Regions from separate parts of the Homo sapiens genome. Here region 2 is linked to region 1. The links come from fine-mapping of genetic effects on gene expression. Tissue or cell type: atrial appendage. Region 1 holds a variant in brackets; the other region holds the start of a gene. All regions are shown on one strand. Distances are between the middles of the regions.

Region 1 (2,682 bases):
TTAAGTGAAGTGGTCAATTTAAAGGGTTTAGTGGTCAGTTCATACAGAGCATTCAATGAATTAGCAGTTGTGACATCTCCATTTCCTAAATGAGAAGGCTGAGGTGTAACTGGTCCAACTGATTTGCCCAGAATTATTCAGCTAGTAAGCAGTAAGGGCAGGGCTTGAGCCCAAGACTTCTGGCTCCAAGTCCAGTGCTCGTTCTGTTGTTTAGCAGCCTGAAAACTATGGGAGTCCAGGACCTGACCCAGGGGCTGGGGAGGAAGAGCAGGAAGTGGGAGGAGTGGAGCTCCAGAGAGGTTTCCTAAGATAACATGGAATGGAGACTTTCTTTGAGCTGCTATATGTGAAAGCCTTCGTCTAAGGATTATTTTCAACAGCAACTCAATTTATTGGGTATCCTACTCAATGTATTAGTGTAATTTCTTTCTTTACATTGAATGTTCAACACCTTTTTTTTTTTTTTTTTGAGATGGAGTCTCACTGTGTCACCTAGGTTGGTGTGCAGTGGCGTGATCTCGGCTCACTGCAACCTCTGTCTTTCGAGTTCAAGCGATTCTCCAGCCTCAGCTTCCTGAGTAGCTGGGATTACAGGTGCACGCCACCCCACGCCCAGCTAATTTTTGTATTTTTAGTAGAGACATGGTTTCGCCATGTTGGCCAGGCTGGTCTCAATCTCCTGACCTCACGTGATCCACCTGCCTGGCCTCCCTGTTGGGATTACAGGTGTGAGCCACTGTGCCCAGCTGAATGTTCAATTTCTTTTGATTGATCCCTCTTCTGTGTTCCCAAACACACTGTACAAATTCTGCTATTGAAGAGTAATTGCCCCAAAATTTAGTGGCTTAAAGCAACAAGAATCATTTCATCATCTTTCAAGGTTTCAGAGGGTCAGGAATTCAGAAAGGGATTGCCTGTGTGGTCTGACTTGGGGTCTCTCATGTGGTTGCTGGTGGTGAATGGTGAACGGAGCTGGATGGGCATAGCTCTGCCTTCATTTACTCTCAGAGCGGGCCAGGCGCAGTGGCTCACGCCTGTAATCCCAGCACTCTGGGAGGCCGAGGCGGGCAGATCACGAGGTCAGGAGATCAAGACCATCCTGGCTAACACGGTGAAACCCCGTCTCTACTGAAAATACAAAAAACTTAGCCGGGCGTGGGTGGCGCGCGTCTGTAGTCCCAGCTACTCGGGAGGCTGAGGCAGGAGAATGGCGTGAACC[C/T]GGGAGGCGGAGCTTGCAGTGAGCCCAGATCACGCCACTGCGCTCCAGCCTGGGCAACAGAGTGAGACTCCTTCTCAAAAAAAAAAAAAAAAAATTATCACTCTGACATACTCTACTGGTTGAAATGGTCTCAAACGTCTTCTCAGGTTATCTTTGGAAAATACAACCCACCAGGTATGCTTTTGTGTCTACCTTTCCTGCCAGAACACTCATTCATGCAGTCACTCAGGTACTCATTTGTTCCCTCATCCAACATTTGTTGAGTACCTGTTGCTCTCCAAACACTAAGGCAGGCCCCTTATATAGATTATTTCATCTAATATTCAGGTCAACCCTTTGAAGTAAATGCATAATCCCCGTATTTAACACATGAGGAAGCTAAGGTTCAGAATGGTGCAGTGACTTGCCCAAAGTCATGTGAATGAGTCGAGAACCCATGATTTGAACCCATAACTATCCATTCCAGAGCCTATGCCCGTTCCTTAACCAGCCTGCCCTCCCAGGATCAGCATAACCTGGCTGCCTTCAAGGCTTTTGAGTTTGTACCTTGGCTAAGCTCTGTGCTCTTCATGCCCCCAGGACTGGTCAGAGGGGCTGGGGAAAGGAACGAGGGAAACACTGTCTGGGGCCAGTGGGAAGGAACCCCAAGTCCTGTGCCAGCTATGGAACTTCCACTTGTGGTCCCAGGGGTTCTGGCCACACAGTGCAGGGTTGGGATTCATGCCCTTATTGAGGAGACAACACCTATTCACACATGACCAACAGGGGTTATTTTGGTGCCAACTCCAGTCAGCTGAGTGTCAGCATGGAGTGCTGAGTTGAGAAAGATCATGAGCAGAATCTGGGCTGGGCAGGATTAAGGGTCTTGATCCATTAGTTATGTCTGCCACTGATACATAACCAGGTATGTTGGCACATGGGCCTTGCATCCCAATCTTACAAAACTACATCTCTTTTCATATGGGACAATACTAAGAAGCAAGCACCACAAGGGCAAGGATTTTGTCTGTTTTCATCCCCGCTATATCCCCAGTGCCTAGAACAGTGTCCTTCAGGGATTAGGATCTCAGTGAATATTTGTTGCATGAATGAGACAATTATGGTTTAGTGGTTAAATGGATTGACTCCAAGCCTGTCCCAATTCTAGGTTTGAATTCCATCTGTGCCACTTGATGGCTGGATAATATTGGATAAGTTGCTTTGTTTAACTTTTCTGAGACTCACCTACTTCATTCGTCTATTCATTTATTCATTCAACAAATATTAGTTGAGCACCTAATGGATGTTGAACACCTAATTTTGGGGATGTACCAAACACTGTTCTAGACACAGGGGACGTAGAAGTGACCAAAATAGATATAGATCCCTGCTGTTATGAAGTTTATATTTTAGGAAGGAGGAACAGAAAAATGAACAAATGAAATATACAACAGGTGTTGGCTGGGCACGGTGACTCATGCCTA
Region 2 (2,682 bases), 100 kb after region 1:
AATAAAGTTTGTACCCACTAAATTGATACTGTGACCAATTAGTGGGGTACAACATACAGTTTGAAAACAGTGCTCTGGCCGGGGGCGGTGGCTCTCGCCTGTAATCCCAGCATTTTGGGAGGCCAAGGCGGGCGGATCACCTGAGGTCAGGAATTTGAGACCAGCCTGGCCAACACGGTGAAACCTCGTTTCTACTAAAAACACTAAAATTAGCCAGGCGTGGTGGTGCACACCTGTAATCCCAGCTACTCGGGAGACTGAGGCACGAGACTCTCTTGAACTCGGGAGGCGGAGGTTGCAGTGAGCCGAAATCGCGCCACTGCACTCCAACCTGGGTGACAGAGTGAGACTCCATCTCAAACAAACAAAACAAACCAACAAAACAAAAGAGAGAAAAACAGTGTTCTCAGCATTTTCTTTGCCTCAGGGCCATTGCGAATGCTACACCGTCTGGAAAGTTTTTCTTGTATCCTCTTCACCTGGATAGATTTTTTTTTTTTTCAGCCCTTCAGAAAGTACACCTAGATAAATCTTAATCATTTTTTTAAGGTATGAAATCTAAGGATGCCCCCTCTCTGGAGCTGCCTGCCTGTGTTTGAATCCTGAAGATCGTGATGCGTGAGTTAATCCGTGCTAAGAACTCGGAACAGTGAGTAGCAAATCGTTGCTTCTTATAGTGCAAGTTAGAAATGACACAACTGTTTGTGTAACTATTAATATGTGTCTCCTCACACCTCCCACACTCTAAACACAAGAAGCCACAGAATTTGGTTAATTTCTTTTCATGTTTTTGTTTGTTTGGTTTTGGGTTTTTTGTTTTGGACAGGCTCTCACTGTGTCGCCCAGGCTGGAGTGCAGTGGCACGATCTCCGCTCGCTGCAACCTCGCCTCCCGGGTTCAAACAATTCTCCTGCCTCAGCTTCCCAAGTAGCTGGGATTACAGGCGCCCACCACCACGCCCGGCTTTTTTTTTTTTTTTTTTTTTTTTTTTTTTTTTTTGGATTTTTTGGAGAGACGGGGGTTTCGCCATGTTAGCCAGGCTGGTCTCGAATTCCTGACCTCAGGTGATCTACCCGCCTCGGTCTCCCAAAGTGCTAGGATTACATGGTGTCCAGGCTGATTCTGTTCATCTTTATATTCCTAGCGTCTCACTTGGCCTGGCATGGAAGAGGCGCTCGGAATCAAAACGGAGAGAGGCTGGGGGTGGAGCCAGCTTCGGAAGTCACGGCGGAGGGGCGGGGGCGGGGCCGCGCCCACCAGACGAGCCATCGGTCACGCGGGGCCCAGCTGGACTGCCGCGGGGGATTCTGGGCCAAGATGGCAGCAATGAGGAAGGCGCTTCCGCGGCGACTGGTGGGCTTGGCGTCCCTCCGGGCTGTAAGTGCCCCGAGCCGCCGAGGCGGCGGCCCTGCAGGCACTCTGACTGTCAGGGTTGGGGGCTTGGCCCGTGGTGACTGCTCTCTTAGAGGCGAGGCCGGACAGCTCTCAGGCCAGAGTCGGGAGGGCGTTGGAGTCCTGGACCCTCCCTTTTCCCCTCAAATCCTTTGAAGGGGATGGGAAAACTGAGGTCCGGAGAGGTGGAGTGACTTGTCTGGGTCATGGAGACCTGGGACGCCATCCTAGGTGCCCTGATTCCCCGCCCAGGGCCCTTTCCGATGACCCTGGCCCCTTTCTCCCTCTAATTGAACTTCAGACCTCTCCAACTCTTCATTAGTGAAAATCAAGAACACGCTTCCATTTCCTTCGTCTCCATTTCCAACTGTTGTTGCTTTTAGAGATGCTTGGGGAACTATCCCAGCCTACCGAGCGGGACTTGCGTTGATTGGAGCCAAGCTGTGATTCCCTTGGAATTGCACTTTGATCCTGTTCGATCCTGATGTTTTCCCCTCTCCCATTCTCAGCGCAGAAAAAGTGTGGGAGACGTAGCTGTATGGAGCAGAAAAAATAAAAGCTGAAGCTAGGGTGTCCCAATAGTTCTGCCACTTTCTAGACTTAATGACATAGTTATTTACTTTCTCTAAACCTCAGCTCTTTCGTCTGTAAAACGGACAACATTCCCTTGGGGTTGTTTTGGAAATTAGAGAAAATGTAAGTAACACATCTGGCAGTGTTCTGGCTCCTAATAAGTGATCAGTCGGTGGTGGTATTTTTACCTTAGGGAGTTGAGAAGGAGTTATAACTGTATAGAGGGAAAAATACACTCCTGGCACTGGGTCCCTCTCAGAAAGCCACGTTAATATCTTTACTTGGCCATTCACCTGCACCACCTGCTCATGTGTAAAATGAAGATGGCAATTCCAACTTGGAAAGTTAAACGCAATAGTAGATATTAATAAGCTTTTAAGAAATATTTGGTGTAATGAGATGGCCCTCCATGGGGTTCCAAGCATAGGAACCAGTATTAGTATTAGGCCTAGATATGGGTTCAAGTCCAAGCTCTGTCACTTTCTAATTGTGATTTTTGGGTAACCTTTCTGAGGCTTAGTTTCTTCACCTACGGAGTTGGGATAATAATAGTCCCTGGCCTGTAGTTTAACACTGGGTTTAGTCAGTATTCGCTGTTGGTGTTGATGCAGGTACACCATACCTCAGGACACTGTGGCACAGTACTTGTGTGGTTAGGGGGACCCTCTCTGAGCAGAGCTTTACAGAGGAGGAACGGGATGTTTAACCAGGAGAAGA

The links. PIP is the estimated chance that this variant, and not a neighbour inherited with it, causes the effect.
Region 2: HMGCL starts here. The variant in region 1 is fine-mapped to the expression of HMGCL in atrial appendage (GTEx, PIP above 0.99).

The regions. Positions count from the first base shown.
Region 1 is chr1:23,926,635-23,929,316 of GRCh38, reverse strand. It overlaps MIR378F (microRNA 378f), which reads right to left and starts at 247; the gene lies at 170-247. The variant C/T (reference allele first, on the strand shown) is at 1,220.
Region 2 is chr1:23,824,051-23,826,732 of GRCh38, reverse strand. It overlaps HMGCL (3-hydroxy-3-methylglutaryl-CoA lyase), which reads left to right and starts at 1,304. Exons shown (of 9, transcript NM_000191.3): 1 at 1,304-1,377. The coding sequence starts at 1,318. It overlaps LOC105376861 (a long non-coding RNA gene), which reads left to right. Exons shown (of 3, transcript XR_947068.2): 2 at 550-649; 3 at 1,145-1,193. RefSeq lists an enhancer at 435-1,303.